4 linked regions of the Homo sapiens genome follow. The protein of the gene in region 1 interacts with the protein of each later gene in a pairwise test. Each region holds a gene or a part of one and is shown on either strand. Other genes may lie near its edges. The genes, in order: TACC3, CKAP5, KIZ and SPATA18.

Region 1 (7,024 bases):
TGGAAACTGTAGACTCAGGAAAATGAGCAGGAGAGGTGAACAATGCAGTGCGCTAATGAGATACAAGTGTAGAGTCAACAACTGGATACTCGATCATCAGAAATACTGCTTGAAACGACCTTCTTTTTTTTTTCTGAGATAGTCTCGCTCTGTCACCCAGCCTGGAATGCAGTGGCACAATCTGGGTTCAATGCAACCTCCACTTCCCAGGTTCAAGAGATTCTCCTGCTCAGCCTCCCAAGTAGCTGGGATTACAAGCATGTACCACCACATCCAGCTAATTTTTGTACTTTTAGTGGCAACGGGGTTTCACCATGTTGGCCAGGCTGGTCTCAAACTCTGACCTCAAGTGATCCACCTGCCTCGGCCTCCCAAAGTGCTGGGATTGCACGCGTGAGCCCCCGCGCCCGGCCCAGAACCCCTTGATAATGAAATGTGAAGCCTGAACCTTAGACACCAGACTGCAGTTAAATACGGTTTGTCCGTAAGACTGGAGGCTGCAGTTGAATACGGTTTGTCCATAAGATTGGAGGCTGCACTTGAATACGGTTTGTCTGTAAGATTGGAGGCTGCAGTTAAACATGGTTTGTCCATAAGATTGGAGGCTGCACTTGAATACGGTTTGTCTGTAAGATTGGAGGCTGCAGTTAAATAAATACGGCTTGTCCGTAAGATTGGAGGCTGCAGTTAAATAAATACGGTTTGTCCGTAAGATTGGAGGCTGCAGTTAAATAAATACGGTTTGTCCGTAAGATTGGAGGCTGCAGTTAAATAAATACGGTTTGTCCGTAAGATTGGAGGCTGCAGTTGAATACGGTTTGTCCGTAAGATTGGAGGCTGCAGTTGAATACGGTTTGTCCGTAAGATTGGAGGCTGCAGTTAAATAAATACAGTTTGTCCGTAAGATTGGAGGCTGCAGTTAAATAAATACGGTTTGTCCGTAAGATTGGAAGGTGGAACGGTCCTTAAATTAAAGTGCATTTGGTAGGAATTGATGGCTGAGTTGTTTTAAAGGACACACAGCCAGGTGGGTATAAGATCTCAATTTAGAGAACTGAAAACCCAGGCACACAGCAGACACGAATGGCATGTAGGGTTTGTCGCTGACAGGATAGTTGTGGGCCGCCACCATGTGGGGATATCAGCTCAGCTGGGATGGGCCTGTCACCCTCACGCAGGATCCCTGGAATCACACAGCACGGCCTTCTGTGTCCGGCGTCTCCCTCGGGGAGGTGTGTTTCCGAGTCCTGGCCATGCTGGAGCAGGTGTGGGTGCTCCTGTCCTTGCCGTGGCAGCTTGGCTTCACATCATCTTATCCATTCATTCATGGATTTGCTGGTTTCTGCTTTTTAGCTGTCAGGAGTAGTGCTGCCTCGAATGTTCAGGTGTAAGTTCTATGTGGATGTATTCTTCCATTTCTCCTGGATACATAGCTAGGAGTGGAGTCGCTGGTCACAGTAACTCTGCTCACCTTTTAGCTACCAGGTGGCCTTCCAGAGTGGCTGCAGTGTTTCACATTCCCACTGGCAGTTATAAGAGAGCTCCAGTTTCTCCACATCCTCGCCAGCGCTGCTTGTCTGTCTTGTTGATCCTAGACTTCCAGCGGGTGGGAAGCGGATCTGGTTGCGGTTTTGATTTGCAGTTCCCAGGTGGCTCATGAACGAGCGTCTTTTTATGTGCTCGTTGGATATCTTCTTTGGGAAAGTGTCTGTCGAGATCCCTTGTCCATTGAGCCACTTATGTTTTTATTACTGAGTTTTAAGAGGTAAATCCCTTTTATTCAAGAAGTGAGGGAAAGGAAAAAATACAAAGTTAAGTCCCTTATCAGATGATGTTTCAAAGTATTGGCTTTTGGCCAGGCATAGGGGCCCACACTTGTAATCTCAGCATTTTGCGGGGCCGAGGCAGGATTGTTTGAGCCCTGTAGTTTGAGACTAACCTGGGCAACATGGCAAGACCTCATCTCTACCAAAAAAAACCTTTTTTTTTATTACCTGGCATGGTGGCGTACACCTATAGTCCCAGCTGCTCGGGAAGCTGAGATGGGAGGCTCGCTTGAGCCAGGAGGTCAAGGCTGCAGTGAGCCATGATTGCACTACTGCACTCCAGTCTGGGCGACAGCGAGACCCTATCTGAAGGAAAGAAAAAAAAGGCAGAAATGAAAACTGACAACAAGGCTAGGTGCGGTGGCTCACGCCCGTAATCCTAGCACTTTGGGAGGCTGAGGAGGGCGAATCACCTGAGATCAAGAGTTTGAGATCAGCCTGGCCAACATGGTGAAACCTCATCTCTACTAAAAATACAAAAATTAGCTGGGTGTGTTGGCACATGCCTGTAATCCTAGCTACTTGGGAGGCTGAGGCGGGAGAATCGCTTGAACCCAGGAGGCGGAGGTTGCAGTGAGCCGAGATGGCGCCACCGCACTCCACCTGAGCAACAGAGCAAGACTCTGTCTCAAAAAAAAAAAAAAGAAAAGAAAACTGACAAGGCCATAGCAGAGAAGGACCTACAAGTTTTTGCTAGACTAAATAATTGGCAACCGTTTTTTAGCTTAATTGAGAAAAGGAGAGAATGAGCAAATACTGCTAGGCATGAAGAAAGGGACAAAACTAGAGATGCCTCAGCCTGGATCTCAGCCAGATCAAGACCCTGTCTTAAAGTACCAGTTTGGTTTGTTTTTTTCCCGAGACGGAGTCTTGCTCTGTCGCCCAGGCTGGAGTGCAGTAGCATGATCTCAGCTTGTTGCAACCTCCGCCTCCTGGGTTCAAGCGATTCTCCTGCCTCAGCCTCCCAAGTAGCTGGGATTACAGGCTCATGCCACCGTGCCCAACTAATTTTTGCATTTTTCGTAGAGACAGGGTTTCCCCATGTTGGCCAGGCTGGCCTCAAACTCCTGACCTCAGGTGATCCACCTGCCTTGGCCTCCCAAAGTGCTGGGATTACAGATGTGAGCTACTGCGCCCAGCCACAGTTTAAGAGTTTTATAGTTTTAGAGGCCGAGACCGGAGGATCACTTGAAGTCAGGAGTTCAAGACCAGCCCTGGCAACGTAGCAAGACTCCTCCTCTACCAAAACAAAAAGTAGGATAGTTTTAACTCTCACAGTTAGGGTGTTGATCCATTCTGAGTTAATCTTTGTATGTGGTATGAGGCACCTTTTCTTTTTTTTTGCAACAGTTTTCCCTCCGCTGCCCAGGTTGGAGTGCAGTGGCATAATCTCAGCTCAGTGCAGCCTCCACCTCCCAGGCTCAAGGAGTTCTCCTGCCTCAGCCTCCCTGTAATAGGAGTGCAGCACCGCGCCTAGCTAATTTTTGTATTTTTTGTACAGACAAGGTTTTGCCCTGTTGAACTCCTGGGCTCAAGTGATCCACTCGCCTCAGCCTCCACCCTTAGTTTTAATCAAAAGTTATATTATCAAAAATTAAAAGACTTGTCTAGGGTAATTTTAAAGACTAATAGTTCTCAACCAGAGCAGTTTTGCCCCCGCCTTTCCCCAGATGTTTGTGGTTGTCACACCTGGAGGTGCTGCTGGCAGGGAGTGGGTAGAGGCTGGGGATGCCGCTCAGCACCCTGCGGTGCCCAGGAGGCGCCTGCCGCAGACAGCAGTCAGGCCCCGAACATCCACACCTCCAAGGGAGGAAATACTGCTGGCTGGAATGATCCTGCCTCACTGAGTGCTGAGGGAGACACCAGCCCGCCGCCCTTAGGGCCCTGGTGAGGGGCGATGGCGGCGGCATGATTCACTCCTCTCAGTTCTAGGCACGGGCGCGGAGGTGGATTACCTGGAGCAGTTTGGAACTTCCTCGGTAGGTACCAGGCAATTCCGCGAAGCCTCACCCACAGGGTGTCCGAGAGCAGCCACGGCAGGTCTTGCCCCCGGAGCGTCCCTTGGTGCCCACGTCCCCCCAGCTGCACACAGGCCCAGGCATTGTGGCGGGCTGTGAATCCAGGGCCCCTTCTGCAGCACCTCCTCTAAGTGGTGTCCTGTGGCAGGGCTCTAGGGCTCTCTACCTGGTGCCTAGCCCAGGATGAAACTCTGACACGCTGTGCTGCTGGGAATGGTGGTGTCTCGGGCAGGGTTGTGGGTGACCGGGGGTGGGAGTGTGCGGGTGACCGGGGGTGGGAGTGTGCAGGTGACCTCCCTGGCCCTTAGCCCCCGTGTGTGTTAGGGGATGGCAGTCAGACCTGATCACTTGCCCTCTTGTCCCCAGTTTAAGGAGTCGGCCTTGAGGAAGCAGTCCTTATACCTCAAGTTCGACCCCCTCCTGAGGGACAGTCCTGGTAGACCAGTGCCCGTGGCCACCGAGACCAGCAGGTATGTGCGCCGGCCCTCCCTCATGCATGAAGCCTTGAGTGTGGGAAGACTGGAGGCTGTTCCTAGGTGTGCTGTCTGCACAGAGGCTTCTAGACCGGGGGGAGATGATCAGAACTGGAAAGGAGCTGTGCTAGGGGTGGGCTGGGCAGCAAGGCCAGAGCAGCCCTTGTGTGTCTGGCAGGAGCAACGGCAGCCTACCCTCCAGCCACAGGGCTGCTGCCTTGCTGGTTACAGCCACCGTTCTAGGTATATTAAAGATCTAAACTTAAATCTTTTAAGAGTACTTCCTCTAAAACAGAGGTCGGCAGGCCAGGCGCGGTGGCTTACGCCTGTAATCCCAGCACTTTGGGAGGCCGAGGTGGATGGATAGCCTCAGCTCAGGAGTTTGCCACCAGCCTGGGCAACATGTTGAAACCCCGTCTCTACTAAAATACAAAAATTAGCCGGGTGTGACGGCATGCACCTGTAGTCTCAGCTACTTGGGAAGCCGAGGCAGGAGAATTGCTTGAACCCAGGAGGCGGAGGTTGCAGTGAGCTGAGATTGCGCCACTGCACTCCAGCCTGGGCAACAGAGTGAGACTCCATCTCAAAAAAAAAAAAAAAAAAAAAAACCAAAAAATAGAGGTCAGCAAACTATCACCTGTGGGCCAGACTTGGCCACTGCCTGTTTGTGTAAAGTTTTATCGTCACAGAGCCATGCCCGTTCCTTTGCAAATTGTGGCAACTTTCACACTACAAGGCCAGAACTGAGTAGTGTGACAGAGGCTGTGTGGCCTTCAAATCCTAACACATGGCCGGGCGCAGTGGCTCACACCTGGAATCCCAGCCCTTTGGGAGGCTGAGGCGGGTGGATCGCCTGAGGTCAGGAGTTTGAGACCAGCCTGGCCAACATAGTGAACCCCCATCTCTACTAAAAATAACAAAAATTAGCCGGGTGAGGCGGCAGGCGCCTGTAATCCCAGCTACTTGGGTTGCTGAAGCAGGAGAATCGGGTGAGCCTGGGAGGCAGGGGTTGCAGGGAGCCGAGATCATGCCACTGCACTCCAATCTGGGTGACAGAGTGAGACCCTGTCTCGGAAAAAGAAAAAAAAAAAGGCTCTGAGCTGTGAACAGCCCCCTGATGAGGCAGCACTGGCTCCGCTCAGCCTGCAGTGGGTAATGAAGCGTCACCGTGCTCTCCCGGAAGGACAAGCAGCCACGTGGGATGGGCAGGTGAGGGAGGGGGGCACGGAGCAGCAGAGAGGCCGGGCATGCTGGATGCGGGTCTGCGTTTTCTACCACTACCCTGACTTGAGTGGTTTTAAACTAAAAAGCAAAGAGCCCGGTTAGCTTGTCCACATGGTCCTCTGTGTCCTACTCAACACTGGGAGGGCCTAGTGACTGAGGCTGCCTCTGCTTGGTGGCAGCATGCACGGTGCAAATGAGACTCCCTCAGGACGTCCGCGGGAAGCCAAGCTTGTGGAGTTCGATTTCTTGGGAGCACTGGACATTCCTGTAAGTCCTTGAGTCCCTCTTGAACTGTCTTGTGTGTGGTCTGAGGGAACGAGTTGTTTTAAGGGCCTATATTTTCTATTCCTGGGGGTCTGAGCCTTTGGTTTTGTTGGGGGCATGGGGCCGCTGTGCTGTTCCCTCGCCGCACTGTCTCGGGTCCCTCATGCACTGTCTGAGGCTCTTGGCCTGTGTGGGCCTTTCCTCCCTCACACTAGGTCAGAGGTAAGAGGCAAGGGCGAAATGGGTTCCTGTTTCATCCCCATCTCCCGCAGGTGCCAGGCCCACCCCCAGGTGTTCCCGCGCCTGGGGGCCCACCCCTGTCCACCGGACCTATAGTGGACCTGCTCCAGTACAGCCAGAAGGACCTGGATGCAGTGGTAAGGACGCAGGTAGTAGCTATTCCACAGAACCTGCAGGCCGCTCTGGGGCTTGGCCAACAGTGGGCAGGGGTCCAACAGCCTGACCCGCCATCCCTGCCATCCCTGCCCCTGCTGGTTGGGGTGGAATTGCAGAGAGCTGCCGGCCCCTGGCCTGTCACTACTGCCCAGGTCGCTGAGGGTCCAGGCTTCCACCCAGTGTCCCCGCAGTCAGCTGCCCACCAGCAGCCTCCCCGGGACTCTCCGGCCTGGGCATGGCGTTGGCCTCTGGTGGCCTTGCAGCAGTGAGTGTGGTTCTTGCTGCCGTGAGCCCGAGTGTCGCCCCTTTCCTCCCGCCCTCCCACGAGTCCAGACGCATCTCCTGGCAGCTTAGGAAGCTCCATCTTCACCCACCCCACATCTGAGGGTCCCGTGCCTTGTCTCCCTCCATCCTCACTGTACATGCCAGGCTTCAGCCTGTTCTAACTCCGGGCCTAAATTGTCCCTAAGAGAGCTGTAGGCACACAAAGGGGCTGGGTGTCTGCAGGCACCACTGTGAGCTACCGTCGCCAGATGGTCCCCAGGGAGGTGCAGACAGGGTGGTTCCGGAGGCCGGCTGGCAGGGCTGGGTTCAAGCCCCAACATCCACACCAGTGTTGTTCACAGTGGCCCCAGGTGTCATCTCCGCAGAGGCCTGTGATGTGGCCCTGACCCCGTACCCCAACAACCTCCTTCCCTGTGTCAGAGCCCGTGTGAGTAACCCAATAGCAGGCCTGGGGACCACAGTGTGGCTGGCCCCCTCCTCTGCAGGCCTGGGCTCCGGGGGCAGGTGGCCCCTGCATGTAACTTATGTTAGAAATGCA
Region 2 (7,024 bases), on another chromosome or scaffold:
CCCAATCTTTTTAAACTTACGAAGCAGTTTCATATAAATGATCTCATATTTGTTTGGTCTGAATGACATTAGTGTTTATACTAGAAAGAAATTGTGGCCAACTAGAAATAGTGGCCATGCTACATTTATAATAATAATGATTCCAGTAATGAAATTTGAATTTTACCTTAAATATGTGTACTATTGTTTACTATTTTCTTTCTATCTGATATGAAGATTTTAAATCTTGGATTATTTTTTAAAACCACTTTAGTGACTTAAATATTTAAAGCATTTCTTGTAACTTTCTCTAGAAGCAAGTTCAAAAGGTCTTCAGTTACACTGTTATGATAAGAGATACATTTAAATATCAATGGAAAGAAACAGAAAAGCTTTCAAACTAAGTGTTTGGAAATGTGTAAATGCCATTCAAGATGTCATTAATGGCTGAGGTGGGTGGATCACTTGAGGTCAGGAGCTCGAGACCAGCCTGGACAACATGGTGAAACCCTGTCTCTACTAAAAATACAAAAATTAGCCAGGGGTGGTGGTGGGCGCCTTTGGTCCCACCTACTGAGGAGGCTGAGTCAGGAGAATCACTTGAACCTAGGAGGTGGAGATTGCAGTGAGCTGAGATCACGCCACTGCACTCCAGCCTGGGCGACAGAGTGAGACTCCGTCTCAAAAAAAAAAAAAAAAAAAAAAAGATGTCATTAATATGGAAAGCTATAAATAGTGTTGAAGATTTCAAGAAAACAAAAACAAAAAGTTTGTGACCTAGACTAATGATCAGTAATAGCAGTTTTTCCAACTACATAACATGCCAGTCCAAGAACTAACCAACAGTTACTTAAGAATATTCTCAGAAAAATTTCTAGAGAACCTGTTCAAAAACATATACAAGATTCTGTGATGCATGTTTTTTTCATGTGAAATATCACGTAGAAAGATATCTCTGTTTTCTACAGTGCCCTTTTACTGGGCAGCAGCATCATATTCTTAAGGAGAAGTGGCCAAGCTAATCAGTATTCCCTGAACCTTGGTTGTAGAGTGCACAAGGGAAGAAGATGCCAAGCAAAACCAGCTTAAAGGAGGATGAAGACAAATCCGGGCCTATTTTTATTGTTGTTCCAAATGGAAAAGAGCAAAGGATGAAAGATGAAAAAGGATTGAAGGTAAGGAAGGATTAAGAATCGTCAGGAGATTTTTGCTTGTATTGTTATTCAAGAATAGTTTTGCTGTCTGAATTCATGTTATTGTTTAATATCTAGGAATTAAGTGTTTCTTTTGCTTATAAATTATATTATTTAGTTTATGGGAGCATTAATTCCTACAAAAGAAACTATAGAATAGAGTTATTGCCTATTTTTCCCTGTAAATAGAAATAAATGATTTAGTAGCTTTTTTGGTATCTTCATTGATTTTTTTTTTTAATTAATTGGATGTATAAGCTTCTTCATTAATCCTTCTTTTTAAGACCTTACAAGGCAGACTTTGTGACTGTATAAATGGCTAGTTCAGTCATTTATGTTACTTTGATTTCATTAGATACTTAAATTTGTTTTCAAAATACATAATCTTTTTTAAAAATTATATGCAGTACAGAAAGTGCAAAGTATAGTAAGAAAAGCATGTCTCTGTTCCAGTATCCCTCCACAGGGAGGATATTAGTCCTCATTTTTTCAATGTATTACTCCAGAAATATTTTATACCTCTACTATCATATGTATATTTTTATATAGCCCTCCTTTTATACAGATGGCATATACAGACATGCCGTACTGTTTGTTCTGTATCTCACTATTTTCTTTTAATGATGTTTGAAATATCTGAAAGATCATTCGTATCTGTGTATATATGTGTGTATCACTGTTTGTATTGGTGCATTGTATGTATGTACCTTTCTTTATCCTTCGCCCACTATGTTGGACATTTAGGTTGTTTCTGGTCTTTCACTATTACAAACACTGCTGCTGTGAATATCTTTGAATGTAGGTCTTTGTACACATATGTGAGTGTATCTATATTAAACTCCTAGAATGATGATATGCATAATTTTGATAGATATTTCAAATTTTCTCTCTATCAAAGATGTGGCAGCAGTGTCCACCATGTTATATAGTTATATGTAGGATTAATTTTTTTTTTTTCTTTAGTAAGAATTGCAAGGCCAGGCACAGTGGCTCATGCCTGTCATCCCAACAATTTGGGAGGCTAAGGCAGGCAAATTGCCTGAGCCCAGGAATTCAAAACCAGCCTGGACAACATATTGAGACTTCATCTCTACGAAAAAAATTTTTTAATTAGCTGGGCATAGTGGTGCATGTCTGTAGTCCCAGCTACTTGGGGGGCTAAGGCAGAAGAATCACTTGAGCCTGGGAGGTTAATGCTACAGTGATCTATGATCATGCCACTGCACTCTGCCATGCCCAGGCAACAGGTGAGACTCTGTCTCAAAAACAAACAATTCCAAAAATTTTTATTCCTAGAAGATTTTCAGAGTTGTTAAGCTTCAAGAAGTATGACACCTTGAAATTTGCATTCATATTTAATTACAAATGAATATTGTTGAATTTTTAAATATTTTATTGTTCCTGCAGCTGCATTATATAAGGCTCTCTACCTCATTTCAGTTGAACACCCTGTAGCCCCTTTTCACCGTTTGTTTTTTCCAGGTGCTAAAGTGGAATTTTACTACCCCACGGGATGAATACATTGAGCAACTAAAGACTCAAATGTCTAGCTGTGTGGCTAAATGGTTACAAGATGAGATGTTTCACTCAGACTTTCAGCATCATAACAAAGCCCTTGCTGTTATGGTTGATGTAAGTCTGCAATAGATAAATATACATGTATTTCAGACATGTAAAAATACCGAGCCCTATGAAATAATCTGAAGTTTGCATGACTTGGAAGTAGAATATACTATGTTCTCTATTTTTAGAGCTGTCTTGTTATTTGGTAGAATAAATGAATGTGTGTGTATATTTTTTAGGTCTTAATTGAAGGCTTAAAAATCTGTCATTTTCTTTTTGGGCTCCAATAAAATTTAAAAGACACTTGCCTAGTAGAATTAAGATTTTGATTATTCTTATTTGTGGGAGTTTTGTTTTGTTTTATTTTAAGCACTTGGAGAGTGAAAAAGAAGGAGTTATTGGTTGCCTGGATCTTATCTTAAAGTGGCTTACCCTGAGGTTTTTTGACACCAATACAAGCGTCCTGATGAAAGCACTAGAATATTTAAAATTGCTCTTCACCTTGCTAAGTGAAGAAGAATATCATCTTACTGAGAATGAAGCATCTTCCTTCATCCCCTATCTTGTCGTCAAGGTAATGTGGTGTTCTCTCTCTGGGAGACTGCTTAAGTTCCCAGCTGACCTCAGTTTCTGTACTTTTATTTCCTCTCCCTTTTTTACTGATTATATCACGGTACCTTCCCTACTTATCCCTATTTCCCTATTCTTTCAAAACATAGTAATGCATGGGAGAATCATTGCTACTTAGGAAATGCCTCACTTAATCATTATTTTCCTTATCGACTAGGTTGGAGAACCAAAGGATGTCATTCGTAAAGATGTTCGTGCCATCCTGAACCGGATGTGCCTTGTCTACCCAGCTAGCAAGATGTTTCCCTTTATCATGGAAGGAACCAAATCCAAAAACTCTAAGCAGAGAGCAGGTGAAGCAAACAGTTTAAACTGAGATGTGAATCTCTGCAGCAGTAGCCTATAGAAGAAATAGTTTATAGATGAACAAATAAATTTCTCCAGTGCCTATGTAGTTGATTCCAACCTCCTGATTTAGACTGTGAGAGTGATGAGTTGCACACTGGTGGAGCCATGGTATCAGGTGATACAGGCACCACTCAGTATCACCCTGGTGACAAAATCAAGTGCACAGGGGCCATCTGACTCACAGGCATCTCTTCCTTTCAGGAGCACTTGCTGAAATACCATTTTTTCACTGATAAAAGGCAGTAAACAAAAAATCCTAGGCAGAGCCAGAGTAAGGTTTTAGTCCTTCATATATGCCAAGGGAAATTTCTCTAGTAAGGATAAGTCTCTGTCCCAAATATGTGTTGTCTCATTAATCTAGCCTTTCTCCCCCATCAGAGTGCCTGGAAGAGCTGGGATGTCTGGTTGAGTCCTATGGCATGAATGTTTGCCAACCAACCCCAGGAAAAGCCTTAAAGGAAATAGCTGTTCACATAGGAGACCGTGACAATGCTGTACGCAATGCTGCACTCAACACCATTGTAACGGTGTACAATGTACATGGGGATCAGGTGTTCAAACTGATTGGAAATGTGAGTGACTTCTCTGAACACTGTCAGCATGTCGTGAAAAGAATTGCAAGATCTCCTAGGTGTTAGGTTTCCTGTCCTCTCAACTGTAGCTAAGTTTTTACTACTTTTTAGTCAACTCAACCTATCAATGTGTCCTAGAATCCAGATAGACCCTTGAGGTGTCTCTGATTAGGCTGTTTTAATGGAAATCAAGTTTTCTTTTCTGAGCATTCTATTCATAGCAAATTTGCTTTAGAAATGAGTGCTATTTTTGAATCAAGAAATCTGAGCTAGTCCCGGGTTTAAATTCTGCCTGGCAGTCTGCTCTGTAATTTTTACTGCATCGAGTTTTTGGTTAAAAAGTGCTTATTTGTGTATAGTGTGGATGCTAGTATCTGTCAGATCACATCTTGCGCTACAGCCGTGAGCCAGTTTTTCACTCACATTAGGTTCTGCCTCTGACCTCTTATTTCGTTTGAGTGAGTCTGGACCTCCGTCTTCAGTTACCTCATAGTGTCACCATGTATTTACACAGGGCTTAAATATGTTTACTTATATTTTCTAATTAAATTCTCACTACTACCCAGTGAAGAATATAAAGCAGTTGGGAATTTTACAGATGACCAAAAATGAAGTTTCTTGCCCATAGTCACACAGCTAGATAGTGGTGACAAAACAAAAAATGAGGAAGCTTCATTTAATTTTTGACCTTTTTATTTGTAGTTACTAATTGGCTTTCTTTTTTTTATCGTTTCTTTTTTTTTTTTTTTTTGAGACAGGGTCTTGCTCTGTCACCTAGGTTGGAGTGCAGTGGTGTGATCATGGTTCACCGCAGCCTCGACCTCCCAGGCTCAAGTGATCCTCTGACTTCAGCCTCCTGAGTAGCAAGGACTACAGGCGCGTGCCACCACACCCAGCTTATTTTTATACTTTATGTATAGATGGGGTTTCACCATGTTGCCCAAGCTGGTGTCAAACTCCTGGGCTCAAGTGATCCTCCTGCTTTGGCCTCCCAAAGTGCTGGGATTACATGCATGAGCCACTGTGCCCAGCCCCTCTCCTTCTTTCATATCTCCTCTTCCTATAGCAGCTAGGCAGGTATTAATAGTAGTTGATTTTGAAATGTGGTGCTTTGAAAGTAAACATGTCCTAACATAGAAGGTTCTATTTGTTTTGATATGAAAATAGATATTATTGTGTTATCCAGTTAGGTTTCTAAATTTGGCCTCTTTACAGCTTTCTGAAAAGGATATGAGCATGCTCGAGGAGAGGATTAAGCGGTCAGCAAAGAGACCCTCTGCTGCACCAATAAAACAGGTGGAAGAGAAACCTCAGCGTGCACAGAACATAAGCTCCAATGCCAACATGTTACGCAAGGGACCAGCTGAGGACATGTCTTCCAAACTCAAGTATGTAGATAGAGATACTTGTCTGAGAGCATCTCCATGGCCTTTGCCTTGTGTGCTCACAGCCTGTCCTGTAACATAATCTTGAGTTCTTGTAGCCATTATCATGCATGACAGAGTGTCTGGGTAAATGTATTGTAACCAAATGTTTGATTCTTCAGTCTTCATTGTCTTTGTCTTTGTCTCAAAACCACTTCTAAATGGTCTTGTGCCTTCTTTCACTGCTTTTCCGTGGACAGAATTATGTATCGCACTTATAGGATGTAAGTACTGCCTGCTAATTTCTCATTAGCAGGGCTCTTATATCTTTCTAACTTCTGACTTGGATTCATCCCCTCTGGAGGGTGACTAGCTTAGAGTTTATAATCAGGGTAGAGGGTGTCCATAAGTACCCCATGAATCAAGTCTTCCACAAAAGTTCAATGTCATGTGGCTAAAATACTGATTCACTTTCTTCTTTGTGTTATACTTGGTTGTGCTTAGTTTCCTATTCTTGAGATAAGGCTAATTAAAATACATGCAACCCAAAATTGGCTTAGGGACTCAAAATACTGCCTCCTAAGCAAGACAGCTCTATTTTGGGTTGTGTCATGAGTATAATTTTAACGAACTTGAATTTGGAAACTTTGAATCCCTATTTCTTGGATGTAAAGCTGGCCCTGACCTGTCAAGAGTGAATATTCTAAAAAGGGGTGACTGGTGGTCTCACAAAATATAAAATGTGCTGAACACGGCATGGAATGGTACTTATGATTAGCAAAATTAAAGCACTGGTTAATTTGGTGGAAAAGAACCAGCCAGTCTAAATTTTTCTTATATATTTGCTCATAAGTAGTGAACTTTGAGTCAATACAAATATATTTTATTGTTTTCTGCCCCTTCAGGAATAGAAATACAAGGTTTGTTGGCTTTAGTGAACTAGAACAAATACTTATAACTTGGCAGGTAATGTAAGTACAAATTAAAGTTATCTGCCCTCTTAGGATATTCATGAACCAATGTTGTTACCTATTAAAGGCACTTGCTTAGACTCAGGGACTTAAATCATTCAGGGGGGCTGAAACCAGAAGTTGAACATCTGTCCTGAAGCTTTGGGGCAACTGACAGTGCTACTCTTGCCCTTTGGTTAAGAAGTCTCTTTTAGTTCAGGAGCCTCCTTTTGCTTCCCTTAGCCAAGCCCGAAGCATGAGTGGGCATCCTGAGGCAGCCCAGATGGTCCGCCGAGAATTCCAGCTGGATCTAGATGAGATTGAGAATGACAATGGTACAGTCCGATGTGAAATGCCAGAACTTGTTCAGCACAAACTGGATGACATTTTTGAGCCAGTCCTTATTCCTGAACCCAAGTGAGTTA
Region 3 (7,687 bases), on another chromosome or scaffold:
GGAGTTCGAGACCAGCCTGGTCAACATGGCAAAACCCTGTCTCTACTAAAAATACAAAAATTAGCCAGGTGTGGTAGTGTGTGCCTGTAATCCCAGTTGTTAGAGGGTGCTGAGGCAGGAGAATTGCTTGAACCCAGGAGGCAGAGGTTGCAGTGAGCTGAGATTGCACAACTGCACTCCAGCCTTGGCAACAGAGTGAGACTCCATCTCAAAATAAATAAATAAATAAAAATTAAATTAAAAATTCAATTTCTCAGTTGCACTAGCCATATTCAATTGCCCAATAGCCATGGCTAATGGCTACCAGATTGGATATGTCTGCATAATGACTGCAAAATGAAATCTTGTCCTACTTTCATATCTATCATGGATTGAAATGTGTCCCCTGCACAATACATATGTTGACGTTCTAACTCTCAGTACCTCAAAATGCAGTCTTCTTTGGAAACAGGGTCAATGCAGATGTAATTAGTTAAGATGAGATCATACTGGGGAAGGGTGGGCGTCTAATCCAATATGATTGGTGCCTTCATAAAAAGGCAGAATTTGGAGACACATACACAGGTAGAACACCATGTGAACATGAAAGCAGAGGTCAAGATGATGTGTCTAGAAGCCAAGGAACACCAAAGATAGCCTGCAAACCACCAGCAGCCAGGAGAGAGGCATGCGGCAGATTCTTCCCCACAGCCCTCAGAAAGAACGAGCCATGCAGATATCTTGATCTTCAATTTCTAGCCTCCAGACCTGAAACACAATAAATCATGTTGTTTAAGACACCTAGTTTGTGGAGCTTTCTTACAGCAGCCCTAGCAAATTAATATAATATCCAAGCAGTTATTGACTAAATATACATGATTTAATTAAAAGCAGCATAGTGTGTACATTTTAAAATATAAAATGCTACTGCAGGCCAGACACAGTGGCTCACGCCTGTAATTCCAGCACTTTGGGAGGCCAAGGCAGGTGGATCACCTGAGGTTGGGAGTTCGAGACCAGCCTGACCAACATGGAGAAACCCTGTCTCTACTAAAAATACAAAATTAGCCAGGCGTGGTGGCATATGCCTGTAATCCCAGCTACTCAGGAGGCTGAGGCAGTAGAATCGCTTGAACCAGGGAGGCAGTGGTTGCGGTGAGCTGAGATCATGCTATTGCACTCCAGCCTGGGCAACAAGAGTGAAATTCCGTCTCAAAAAAAAAAAAAATTTCTGCTGCATTGAGAGGCCGAGATGAATCAGAACAGGACTTGTTGGGTTTCCCACTCAATTAGTGTTAGATCATGTCCCCTTTGTCCAATCACGCTTCTACACGACTGTCGATCATGCCTATCCAATAAAGTCCCCATAAAAGACCCAAGGGGACAGGGTTCAGGAAGCTTCTGAGCTGGCTGAACATGTGGAGGAGGTTCCTGGAGGGTGGTGTGCCCGTGGAGGGCATGGAACCTCTACACCCCTTCCCCCAGACCTCACCTTATGAATCTTTTCATCTGTATCTTTTGTGATATTCTTATAATAAACTGGTAAATGTAATGTATATATACATATATATGGAAATATGTTGAAATTAGAATTTCCCAATATTAGAATATATGTACAATTCTAATTTCAATATATTTTCCAGAATCAATTTTGTTTTTGAGCTACAAAAACAACAATTTCATTTGGTTCACCCAAAGATTCATGTGACTTCTGGGCCGAGACACTGGCTTCCCTTGCTGTTTGCTTAATGGGACCACTAGGGATCCATATTTTGAACTAGACTCGTTAATATTACATAGATTTCCAGCTAGGTGACTTTGGCCAAGCCCCTTATCTGCCCTGAACCCTTTTTCCCCTGTAAAACAAGGGGGTGGGGCTAGACTCCCTCTAAGTTCTAGCTAAGACATTCTAGGACTTAGAGGAAGCCTTGATCTAGGCAGACTTGATGACCCTTGGTCCAGTGAGCTAAAAGCAGGGCTGCTTACAGAAATCAGCTCAGCTAAATAAAGAGTTTGAAGAAAAATATTAAAATAGAGGGCTCTGGCAAATTAAATATTCAAAGTGAAGAACTCAGAATTTATTGAAAGCCTGTCACCATTTAAAATGCATAATTTTAGCATAAATACTCTAGAAATATTCCTTTTGTTTGCTATGTGTTATTGTTAATAAAGGAGATCCTACATCTAGATTTGTCATACGTCATTAATGAATCAACCATAGGATGTAAATTATAATTATTTTGAATTATCTATTTACTGTTTAATTACATTTAATTTTAGATTCTCCTAAAATGGCCTAATAAAAATTTTGGGTGCTAAATGACTGCCTCATCTGCTTACTCTGTGCTACTTGCTAAAATTAGTTATATTAATTGTTTGGGGATTCTTTTTCTTAAAAAAAAAAACTAACCCTGGGGGCATGGTCCTAAATAAAATATCCTAAAAATTTAATGCTTTTCTTTTCTTTGCCAGGGTTGTAGTAAAATGTTAGTTACACTAAACTCATTAAAATAAACCTTTGCACATTACCACTGAATCAATTGGATATAATCTGAATAAAAACTAAATAAAAGTCACATCAGTGCTACCCTTGGACCAGGGCAAGAAGGCCTCTGCCCTGGCTTCTGTGTATTAGAGGTTCTGTTCTAGCCCTTCTCTGCCCATGCTGCTCCACGCAAGGCAAGGAGGTCCCAGGGCCAGATGACAGGCCCACCTGGGGTGCTCACACACATACACACACATGCTCTTCTAGAACACGTTCTAAGTACCCAACACCCTTACCTTCCCTGCTCAAAGGGGCCCAAGCTGCTTTCTAAGGCTTTAAAAGGCCTCTTGGCTGGGTCTTTCCTGCAAGGGTGACCATCACTGGCATGCTCACTGCCCGGCCAAGAGGAGGCTGAGGTGGGGATGTAGGCAGAGTTGGGACTTGCTGGCTGGAGAAGAGGAGGAGAAGAGGCAGGGCACACACATCCCTGCTAGTGTATGAGACCCCCTCACAAAGCAAGACTGAGCCTGGGGTGGGAAATGGAGTTGGGGGGAGCTGGAGAAGCAGGCAAACTAAATTCCACCCTGGTTGTCCAGGTTCTTAAGAAGGCATATTGGTCAAAGTGGAGAGGAGAACACGTATTTTACCTAAGTTTGTTATCTTGAATTATAATTCAATATTTAGGCGGATGGTATGAGGGCCTCCATTCACACTCTTGCCCTGGAACTGGCAAATGTGAATGGAAGGCTGAGTAAAATCATAGTTTTGTGTTGTTGGCCTTTGAGTGTTCCATCTCTCTTACAATTTTAGTTTGTCACACCTTGCACCTTGTATGTGTAAGTAAAATTAATGGCATAGGAAAGAAACCAAAAGAAGTGAACAATAAGAGACTAAAGAAACTCTACAGGCCGGGCATGGTGGCTCATGCAAGTAATCCTAACACTTTGGGAGGCCAAGGTGGGTGGATCACCTGAGGTTGGGAGTTCAAGACCAGCCTGGCCAACATGGTGAAACCCCGTCTCTCCTTAAAATATAAAAAATACCAAAAAAAACAAAAATTATCTGGGTGTGGTAGCGCACACCTGTAATCCCAGTTATTCAGGAGGCTGAGGCACGAGAATCTTTTGAACCCGGGAGGCAGAGCTTGCAGTGAGCCGAGATCACGCCACTGCACTCCAGCCTGGGCAACAGAGTGAGACTCTGTCTCAAAAAAAAAAAAAAAAAAAAGGAAAGGAAGGCAGAGAAGCAGGCTAAGGCTTAATTTTTCTGCCCAGTGGGTTTTGAAATATGGTTGGCTTCCTTCAGGAAGCTTTTTCCCGACGTTGGTGATGATAATAAAACCTGATGCTTTCTATGTGCTGGGCCCACTTATAAACACTAACACATATTAACAATCGAATCCTAAACTAATCCTGTGTTAACAGCCTCCCACTTTACATATGAGGAAACCTGGGGTGACTTGCACACGGCTTGGCAGCTGGGACGTGGATAGGGAATGTACACCCAGGCAGTCTGGCTCCCGGGCTCCTGCTAGAGGATCCTACAGGACATTAGGAGCATTGTCCCTTAGAGCTGTCTGCACAAACGTCTGCTTCCCAAGCAACTAGTTATCAACTTTTCCCTCTCGCCAACGATACTGGCACCTGGAACAATCCTTAGATTCAGCACGGATTTTCGAGTAAGGGGTTGGTCCACTGTCGGGGCTGAGCACGGCTGTTTAGCATTTGAGGGTTTGTCTTTTTTTACTTGGTGTTTTGTGTCGCTTTTGAGTGCTGATATAATAGAACAAGCTTAGTACAGTGCCTGGCACTCAACAAATCCTGGCAAGAAAGGAGATCGAGGAAAAGAAGCAAGCGAGAGACGAAAGAAAGGGAGGGAATGCGCCTTGTAACATTAACGTAGCTTGTGCGAATCCTGGAAGGTGAGGGGAAAGGAGACACCGCGTCAAGGGAGAGAGGAGAGGGCACCGAGCGCCCGCCCCTCCGACGTGGTCCGCCCCGGCCTCACGACGCCCCGCCTCTGCCACGCCTCTTCCCCGCCCCATGCAGGTCTTCGTCCCGCCCCCCACAAAGCCGGCTTCCGCCCCGTCCCTCAGCGGCGCCCCGCCCCCACGGCGTCTTGCCCCGCCTCCTGCAGGCGGCCCGGCGCGGTGTTTACCCGCGGTGCATGGTGGGGCGGTCTCCTTCGGCAACCCCGGCCGAACGGCCACCCAGAGGCTGTGCTGAGCTGGCGCAGCGGCAGCAGCATGAGCCGGACCCTCGCATCGGCCGTGCCCCTGTCGAGTCCCGACTACTACGAGAGGCTGGGCCAACTCCAGCACGGGCTGCGGGACAGGTAAGGGCACTGGGGCGGGGGTGGGGAGTCGGCCCGCGCCGGGGGTCTTCCGCGTGCCCTGCCCCATTTTCCTTCCCGCTCCCCCGTCCGAGGTTCCCCGGGGCCCAGGCCCGCGCGCAACGCCCCCCAGGCTCCCAGTGGGGCCTGGAGGACAGTGTTTACTAGAGCCACCCCCTGTATTGGGGGTGGGAGCGGAGAGAGGTGAGAGACCGCCCCCGCCCCGTCAATAGCAGCTAAAGCCTGGTCTACGGTTTGAGGATGCGGCCGCGTCACAGAATTTGCCCAGAAGTGAAGGTGGGAGTTCTTCTGCCTGTCACTCTCCATCAAGCCTTGTGAGTTTCTCTTGTCCCCTTTTACACGCCCCCTCCCCACTCTCTTCAAATTGCCATCCCGCCGTGACAGCTGCACTGCATCAATGATGACAAGTCCTGGAACGCAGACGGTTGTGTGTGTGTGTGTCAAACATGTGCCCCCGTTTAAACTCAGGAGACTTTTAGGGGTAGCGAGGGCTGGCTAGATTTCCAGCGAAGGGATGAAATTTCCAGCTAGAGAAGTCCAGCTTCCAGAGGGTTCATGATGCCTTTGATTAAGATATGAAAGATGGGAACCACTGAAAACAGCTAGATCTAAGAGTGCATATAGAGAGAAAATTATACCGCAATGTACTATGAATAACCACGTAAAAGATAAATTGCTGGACCTCTTATTTAGCTGCTAAGTTAATTGGAGTTGTAACTCTCATTAGTTGACAAGAAAGGAAATACATTTTTGGATCTCTTGATAAACAAAACATTTAATGAGTGTTAAAAGTTACAAAATCATTCTAGTGAACAGGAGAGCTGTGTGCGTGACAGTGCTAAAATGATAACAATAATTACATGGAAAATAAAGGCAGAAGTGAGCGATTTTGAAAAGGAATTACATTTATCTTACGCTAGATTTAATTCTTGTCAGATATTTATAGAGCATCTACAACAGGCTTCCTTAATTGTCGTTAGCATTTTTTTTACCTTGTACTCCTTTTCTACGTCCTATTTTCTTTCTGACATGTCACCGCTCACCCATATCAGTGACCTCTTAATTTCTGACTTTAAAAAGAAATCTCTTCCTGTAGAGCCTTCCCTGTTTCAACCCATTCCCTAACTTTTGTGACTCTTGGCATTCTTACAGCACTCATAAATGGCATTCTTTTTGAACTATTAATTGTAAGTTATTTTTGTTTCCTGTGCTAGGAACACCTGGCTGTTTATAGTCCTTATGGCACAATAACTGTATAATAATTATGTACTTTATGATTAACACTTATTTAATTATTAAACAAGGTGAGGCTGTTGAAAATATATAAGGAATGTGAATCAAATTTTATAGCCTGTTCACGGTTCTGCATTTCGAGATTTGTTTTATTTTTAAGTCAGTACAAATCTGTTGCTGTGTGTGTTCATTTTTCATTTTAAGAATTTATAACTAACTCAAATTAATGCACACTGGACACAGTTATAGAGGCAAATAATTCTAGATACAGAAAAGGCTGCAGTAGAAATATCAAAACCTGGATTCTAGTCCACGAACAATTGTGTGACCTTGAGCAGGTTGTTCCACCTCTCTGAACCTTGGTTCTTTACCAGGAATGAGGGGGCTTGACTAATATGCAAAGTAAGGCCACAGATTTTTTTCTTTCTCTCTTTGCTAGAATAATGGGCCTTAAAGTAAAAAAAGAAAAAAAAGCTGAAAGCTGTAGTTTTGCAAAGCAATGTGTAAAGAATATTATTGTCTGTATCCAATTTGAGTGTTTGGATGTACCTTTTTGTTTGTTTGTTTATTTGTTTGAAACATAGTCTCACTCTGTCACCCAGGCTGGAGTGCAATGGCATGATCTCAGCTCACTGCAACCCCCACCTCCCAGGTTCAAGCGATTGTCCTGCCTCAGCCTCCCTAGTAGCTGGGATTACAGGCGCCCACCACCAACCCCAGCTAATTTTTGTATTTTTAGTGGAGATGGGGTTTCACCATGTTGGCCAGGCTGATCTCGAACCCCTGACCTCAGGTGATCTGCCTGCCTCTGCCTTCCAAAGTGTTGGGATTACAGGTGTGAGCCACTGCACCCGGCCTTGGTTGTACCTTTTTAAACAAAGAAACACAAAGCATCCCACTGATCACAGATACCACTGTCTCCTAAAATTCCTGAGTCATTTCATAGGGAGCAACCCTGGGTAGTCACAGCTGCTTTATCAATCCAGAAACTTCTGGGAAGTGGGAGACAAAAAAAAACTCCCTCTTTCTCAGCCCTTTTAGAGGTGGTCATTGCAATGTTAGCTGGTCAAATAACCAGCATATTTCCAGCCCAAGTCATGTTAGCTGTAGTTACACGTAGATGTAATTTTATCGTCTGAATGTTTTCCTATGTGTGTACAGTGTTTTTTCTGCATTGTGGTGAAAGTCAATAATTGAATCTAAAAGAGTCTAATGGAGTGACTTGTTACAGTGTGTATAGCACCCACAAGCATGGTAGAAACTTATAAGTGGAATTGGCTCTTACGGTTATACAAAAACATCCTTTTAAAAGGGCCCATTAGCCAGCCGCGGTTTTTTCAGTGCCTATATTGATTCAGAGTAAGATATCATAATAGTCTAGAAACTGACACTGAGATATTAGTAGAGTAAGCTGAAGATGGTATAGAATTGTGGTATCGAGACAAAAACAGAATAACAAGTGGCTTAAAAGTAGAAAACTCAGCAAGATAAGGACCACTTAGCTGTGTAAAACTGAAAGGTCCAAGTGAGGGGTGACTGAAAACATGAACTATGGGTAAGCATCCCAGGGATGGGTATTTCAAAGATTCTGAATAGAGATTTAATATGTAAGAATTGCAAGCCATGGAAAGGCTTTTC
Region 4 (6,924 bases), about 50 Mb from region 1:
CCTCCCAAATCTCATGTTCTCACATTTCAAAAGCAATCATGCCTTCCCAACAGTTCCCCAAAGTCTTAACTCATTTCAGCATTAACTCAAAAGTCCACAGTCCAAAGTCCAAAGTCTCATCCTAGAGAAGGCAAGTCCCTTCCACCTATGAGCCTTTAAAATCAAAAGCAAGTTACACGTTGTGCACATGTACCCTAGAACTTAAAGTATAATAAAAAAAAAAAATCAAATCAAATCAAAAGCAAGTTAGTTACTTCCTAGATACAATGGGGATACAGGCATTGGGTAAATACAGCCATTCCAAATGGGAGAAATTGGCCAAAACAAAGGGGCTACAGGCCCCATGCAAGTCTGAAATCCAGTGGGATAGTCAAATTTTTTTATTTTTATTTTATTTATTTATTTATTTATTTATTTATTTATTTATTTATTTATTTTTTTTGGTGACAGAGTCTTGCTCTGTCACCCAGGCTGGAATGCAGTGGTGTGATCTCAGCTCACTGCAACCTCCATCTCCCAGGTTCAAGTGATTCTCCTGCCTCAGCCTCCTGAGTAGCTGGGATTACAGGCACCCGCCACCACGCTCAAGTAGAGACAGGGTTTTGCCATGTTGGCCAGGCTGGTTTCAAACTCCTGACCTCAGGTGACCCACCCACCTCAGCCTCCCAAAGTGCTGGGATTACAGGTGTGTGTTACCGCATCTGGCCAGTCAAATCTTAAAGCTCCAAAATGATCTCCTTTGAGCCCATGTCTCACATCCAGGTCATGCTGATGCAAGAGGTGGGTTCCCATGGTCTTGGGCAGCTCTGCCCCTGTGGCTTTGCAGGGTACAGCCTCCCTCTGGGCTGCCTTTACAGGCCAGTGTTGAGTGTCTGTGGCTTTTGCAGGCACACAGTACAAGCTTTCTGTGGATATACCATTCTAGGGTCTGGAGGACAGAGGCTTCTCACAGCTCCACTAGGCAGCACCCCAGTAGGGACTCTTTGTGGGGGTTCACACCCCACATTAACCTTCTGCACTGCCCTAGCAGAGGTTCTCCATGAGGGCCCCACCCCTGCAGCAAACTTTTGCCTGGGCATCTAGGTGTTTCCATACATCTTCTGAAATCTAGGCAGAGGTTCCCAAACCTCAACTCTTGACTTCTGTGTACTTGCAGGCTCAATACCACATGAAAGCTCCCAAGGCTTGAGGCTTGTACTCTCTGAAGCCATGGCCAGAGCTCTACATTGGCCCCTTTCAGCCATGGCTGGAGTGGCTGGGACGCAGGGCATCAAGTCCCTAGGCTGCCCTGGAGACATGCCCTGGAGATATTTTCACCATTGTCTTGGGGATTAACATTTGGCTCCTTGTTACTTATGCAAATTTCTGTAGCCCGCTTGAATTTCTCCTCTGAAAATGGGATTTTCTTTTATATTGCGTTGTCAGGCTGCAAATTTTCTGAACTTTTATGCTCTGCTTCCCTTTCAAAATGGAATGCCTTTAACAGCACCCAAGTCACCTCTTGAATGCTTTGCTACTTAGAAATTTCTTCTGCCAGATAACCTAAATCATCTCTCTCAAGTTCAAAGTTCCACAAATCTCTAGGTCAGGGGCAAAATGCTGCCAGTCTCTTTGCTAAAACATAAAAAGAGTCACCTTTGCTCCAGTTCCCAACAAATTCCTCATTTCCATCCACCTCAGCCTGGATTTCATAGTCTATATCATTATCAGCATTTTGGTCAAAGCCATTTGACAAGACTCTAGGGAGTTCGAAACGTTCCTACATTTTCCTGTCTTCTTCAGAGTCCTCCAAACTGTTCCAACCTCTGCCTGTTACTCAGTTCCAGAAAGTTACTCAGTTCCTAAAGTGCTCCACATTTTTGGATATATTTTCAGTGGCGCTGCAATCCCCATAAGAATTTACTGTATTAGTTGGTTTACAAGCTGCTGAGACGGGGCAATTTACAAAAGAAAGAGGTTGAATGGACTTACAGTTCCACATGGCGAGGGAGGCCTCACAATCATGGTGGGAGGCAAGGAGGAGCAAGTAACATCTTATATGGGCGGCAGCAAGCTTGTGCAGGGAAAATTCCCTTTTTCAAAACCACCAGATCTTGTGAGACTTACTCACTATCACGAGAATAGTACAGGAAAGACCTGACTCCATGGTTCAATTACCTCTCACTGGACCCCTCCCACAACACGTGGAATCCAAGATGAGATTTTGGCAAGGACTCAGCCAAACCATGTTAGTAACTGTTTGGGGTAACTTTTTTCTGAATAAGTTTTCATACAAACAATTCATATTCATGATAGAAACTTGAAAAAATCAGAAAAATATAAAAGAGCAATTAAAATAACCCACAATTATACCTTGGGTTCACATTGTGTAATTTAACACAGTGTATACAATTTAGTGTTCTGCCTTTTTCGTTATAGTGAAAATTTGTAGATAGTATATATTCTACAACAACAAGATTTTTAGTGTGCAACATTTCATTATTTGCTTAACCATTACCCTATTGTTGGAGGTTTAGATTGTTTACAACTAGTTTTCTTTATTAAATATAAACATACTAATCCACATTCTTAATAATAGCAAATGTAGGCCAGTATTAGTTTATATTTAATAAACAGCAATTACTAGAGCAATTGCTACTGCATTTTGCCAAGCATTGTACTAAATACATGAATTATCTTACTAAGTTTCATAATAATCCTATGAGAGAATTATTTTCCTTTTACAGATGATGAAACCAAGGATTACAGGCTAATTAAGGTGCTCACAGCAAGGAAAAATCCTTTACCTCTAATTTATCTGACATAAATGTTCCAATATGGGTTTTTATGAATAAGTAAATGGGACTGTTCAAAGATTCCAAATGCCTGTAGAAATATGTAATTATTAGGTCCAAATTGAGAAATTTGAAGTTTTTCTCAATTCATTTTACATATATATATATATATATATATATATATATATGAAGTTGTTTAATGAATATTTAGCTGTTTTGTTGAGTGGGTATTTTTAACATTAGAAATTATTATTCTACTCCAATCAAATAACATGTTATACCCCTATAGTCCTTATTTTGTGGTCTACAGAAAATAGTAGGAACACAGGCTCCAAAACTGAGCCTTTCATTTTCATTAGCAGATAGTAAAGCCACTGTAATCAAGAGAAATAAAAAATGAGAGGTGGTGAAAATTCTTGATTTTACAATACTTGAATATATGCAGTGTTCACAGATTTTCAAGTACCTACAGAGATGAAACTAAGTTAAACTAGCTAGCTAACCAGCTGAGGCTCTGCTCCCCACCGCTGTTTTAATGAATGGATAGGAATGATTTATAATCAGCACATTTTTTGATGGTATATAAAAGAGCTTGCTTCGAAAGCGCTTAAAGATGGTCGAAATGGTTTCCTAAGTAGTTGAACCTGTTTCTGTAGCAGAATACACACTTTTGAAATAGTGCCAAACTAGGTCAAGAAAGTCCCAATTAGAGAATTCAGAATTAAATGAAGCTTTAGAGTGCTCAATGACTCTAAAAAAAAAAGTACTAAAATACATACTGCCAAATCTTATCCAAACCTGAGGGATTAACTTTAATTTGTGAACATCCTGGAGCTAAACTCTATTAACTTGGGTACCCACCCAGTGGGTCAAGGAACAAAGTAAAAGCTAGAAGTAAGAAGTACTGAAATTTTAGTTACAAGTTTCATACAGGTAAACCCAAGGCGCTACAAATGAAGAATTAAAGGAATGAAAGGCGAAAGAATAAAGGGGCCAAAGAGGTGATCTCCTGAGAGCCTAGCCCCAAACTTCTATAGAGACTTAACTTCTGCTTTTCTGGACACGCGTGGGCACCCAGAACCCCGAATGGGGAGGAATGCTGTAGACGCCCTGCTGCCCTCCAGCCCGCGCGGCTGCGCGTCTCAGTCCACCCCTGGGGCGCGCGGCTGTCACCCAGGGCGGGGCGGCGCGGGCGTTGCCACGACGCGGGCCGCGCGCGTCCCTGGCAGCCAACCCGTCCACGTCAAGGTTTGTTTAATAATCGCCAGGGTATCTATGGCCGGGCTCAGGCGGCTGCTGGGGAGCCAGGAGACCGCGCGGGACGGCGGATGAGGCGCGGCGGCTGCGGCCCAGGGCACCTCCCCTCTGGCTTCCCGAACCCGGCCAGGTCCGACCCGAGGGGGAGGATGGAAACACCTGCCGCGCTCTGAGCCCCCCAGAAGAGAACACCCTTCCCGCCATATCACCCCACGGTCCTGCGGAGGCCACCGCCTGGTCCCCCCAAGTCTCCATCGCGCAGCGTGGGGCCGAGAGGAATAGTGAGCGATGGCGGAAAACCTGAAAAGACTGGTCTCAAACGAAACTTTACGAACGTTGCAGGAAAAGCTAGACTTCTGGCTGAAGGAGTACAACGTGAGTCTGGGTGAAAAACCCCCGGGGTTCGCCCTCCCATAGGTTCCAGCACAGCCCTTGTCGGGGATTTCTTAGGGCTGGAGTTGGTGGCCACTTTGCAAAGCCTCCGCGGTTGCGATTCCTAACCAGGATCTCAGCTTTCGACCGGGATCGCTGGGGAAGGAAGGACATGTGTGTACATGCCCTTGTCTCAGAGCTTCGGGAGGCGGCGCGCAGGCGGCCTGCGGAGCGCAGCACTAGGCTGCGGAGACTGGAGAGTGCTTCCAATCAGTGGTAACTAAGGACGCCGGCGACCTAGCAATAGGGAAGCCCTGCTGTCCGCGGCTGGTCTGGTCATGCCTGCCACTCTTTCCCATCCCCCTTGCCAGCGCAATCCACACCGCCTGCTTCCCCAATCCCGAATTATTTTTTACTACAACCCTCTCCTGCCCAGGGTTTGTATCAGAATGGATTTGTATAAACACACACCCAGGAGTTATTTACCCAGAAATCAGCGAAACGGACACTTGTTAACGTTGCGGGTTTCACTTGCGTGCTGGTGGGCCTGGAAATTGAGGCACAGTTCCAACACCAGGGCGGATTCAGGCCTTTTTCCAGGCATTTGTGAGAAGCCAGTATTCTGTCACCAAACCCATGAGCACTTTTCAAATCTCATTAATCCCTACTCGCACCCTGCCTCCCCATAATTCCCCCCTTCCCCCAAATAGAACGGTGAGTGTTGAATTTGCTTTACATTCGGTCGGTCCGTCTTAAATAGGGATTTCCCCTCTTACATAATAAGTGGAGCGGCCAGGCAAAAGAACTGTGGACCGGAAATTAGCCCCCCCTTGTTTCTACATTTGGCTCTGCATAGAACTAGCTGAATGACGGAGTCAAATTATTTAACTTCTCTTGGTCTTAGTACCTCATCTGTGAAATAGCAGAGATTGGTCTAGATGATATGTAAATTTCCTGTTCAGATTTTAAGTTTTTGAGCCTAGATTAGCTTGTTTCTGAGATCCTGCCTGTTATGAGGTCCTTAGGCTTCCCCATTCACCCTTTAACCAGTGCTCCTGAAGTGGAGGGGAGCTCAAAGAGCAGCTACAGCTTTCTCCTTAGCCTTCCTTTCTAGTGCTTCCTGTTCAGTCCTTTGCTCCCTTTTAAAGAACAAGCGCTGACCATTCCTTCTCCATTAAGAATTCTGGAAAGTTAAAATGACCTCTTTATCATAAAAGACTTGGGTTCCCCCCAACTAATTTTAAAAGTACCTACTACTTAGTCTCAGGAGGTTGAGAATAAGAAATTCTAACATGTATACAGTATTTACCCCTTTTTTTTTGCCCAGTGGCCTAACTAAACTCTGAATTTTAAAAAAACATGTTGTTTGTCACAATGTTTATTACAAATAACACTAGGATTTGTCTGGAACTAATAAACAATTATTTTAGAAACTCCCTGTAAGTGATGAGAAGTGCCTTAGTTTATTACATTTTCCTGTCTTGATAACATCCCATTCTCTGCTCTCATTAAAACCATTTCCATCCAGCTGTTTTCCCTTCATCTCTCTACAGTAGAGGCTGCACTCACAGCCACCAGTGTTTTTCATACCTTGTGGCCACTCCCCAGGTTCCATCATTTCTCTTGAGTTTGCAGGCATCATTATCACATTGGAATGTTGACACCTGTATTCTTCCCCCTCCACTCCTGCTTCATCTGTTACAAGTATGCTGATGAATCTTATTTCTATAGGATGTGTTCCCATCTGAGCTCTCACTTCTCCAACTGCCCATTGGACATCTTTCAATAGTGAATGCTATTGAAATGCTCAGAATGCTCAAAGTCAAATCTGTCCAAAATGGAATTTAGCCTCTCCCATGCCCCAACCACAGGTCTCATTTTTCTAAGTCGTCTTCATCATTATATACTCCACTCCCTTTTCACCATCATAATCTGTTGGTTCTAACTTCAAAGTTCATACGGAATCTAAACACTTTTCACCACCCCCACTGCTACCACCCTTCTCCATCCTTGATCATCTTTCACCTGGATTATTACAAAAATAACAACCCAAAGAGATGCTTCTAAATGTCAAGTCAGATCAAGTTACTCTTTTTGCAAGACACTCCAAATTTCCTATTTCAGTCAGAAGAAGCCAAAGCTCCTACAGTGACCTTCAAAGTCCTACACAATTGTGCCCCTTTAAGCTCTTTAACCTTATCTGTTACTCTCTCCCTTGCTCAGCCCACTCCAGCAGTACCAGCTTTCTTGCTCGTCCTAGAGCAATGCTGTCCAATAGAACTTTCTATGATGATGGACAGGTTCTATATCTGCATTGTCCAATAAGGTGACTATTGGGCACTTGAAATGTGGCAAGTACACACTGAAGAACAGAATTTTTAATTTGACTTAAGTCCAATTTAAATTCAGATAGCCACATGCAGCTCATGGCTGCTGTCTCAGACAGCACAGTTCTAGAGATGTGGACATGCTTCTGCTTCAGGGCATTTGCACTCACTGTTTTCTCTGCCTGAAAAACTTT

The links.
Region 2: the proteins of TACC3 (region 1) and CKAP5 interact in binary tests that used the Homo sapiens proteins (3 or more experiments, as listed by UniProt).
Region 3: the proteins of TACC3 (region 1) and KIZ interact in binary tests that used the Homo sapiens proteins (3 or more experiments, as listed by UniProt).
Region 4: the proteins of TACC3 (region 1) and SPATA18 interact in binary tests that used the Homo sapiens proteins (3 or more experiments, as listed by UniProt).

Annotation. Positions count from the first base shown.
Region 1 is NC_000004.12:1,731,521-1,738,544, forward strand, and holds part of TACC3 (transforming acidic coiled-coil-containing protein 3), read left to right. Parts: intron 1-3,752; coding exon 3,753-3,805; intron 3,806-4,210; coding exon 4,211-4,314; intron 4,315-5,720; coding exon 5,721-5,808; intron 5,809-6,077; coding exon 6,078-6,182; coding exon of another isoform or gene 6,183-6,194; intron 6,195-6,827; coding exon of another isoform or gene 6,828-6,872; exon of another isoform or gene 6,873-7,024. UniProt on the Homo sapiens protein: Plays a role in the microtubule-dependent coupling of the nucleus and the centrosome. Involved in the processes that regulate centrosome-mediated interkinetic nuclear migration (INM) of neural progenitors.
Region 2 is NC_000011.10:46,759,261-46,766,284, reverse strand, and holds part of CKAP5 (cytoskeleton-associated protein 5), read left to right. Parts: intron 1-1,028; coding exon 1,029-1,154; intron 1,155-2,654; coding exon 2,655-2,804; intron 2,805-3,105; coding exon 3,106-3,309; intron 3,310-3,522; coding exon 3,523-3,658; intron 3,659-3,785; exon of another isoform or gene 3,786-3,896; intron 3,897-4,091; coding exon 4,092-4,285; intron 4,286-5,500; coding exon 5,501-5,673; intron 5,674-6,842; coding exon 6,843-7,016; intron 7,017-7,024. UniProt on the Homo sapiens protein: Binds to the plus end of microtubules and regulates microtubule dynamics and microtubule organization. Acts as a processive microtubule polymerase. Promotes cytoplasmic microtubule nucleation and elongation. Plays a major role in organizing spindle poles.
Region 3 is NC_000020.11:21,121,407-21,129,093, forward strand, and holds the start of KIZ (centrosomal protein kizuna), read left to right. Parts: upstream 1-4,709; coding exon 4,710-4,798; intron 4,799-7,687. UniProt on the Homo sapiens protein: Centrosomal protein required for establishing a robust mitotic centrosome architecture that can endure the forces that converge on the centrosomes during spindle formation. Required for stabilizing the expanded pericentriolar material around the centriole.
Region 4 is NC_000004.12:52,047,386-52,054,309, forward strand, and holds the start of SPATA18 (mitochondria-eating protein), read left to right. Parts: upstream 1-3,918; 5' UTR 3,919-4,319; coding exon 4,320-4,406; intron 4,407-6,924. UniProt on the Homo sapiens protein: Key regulator of mitochondrial quality that mediates the repairing or degradation of unhealthy mitochondria in response to mitochondrial damage.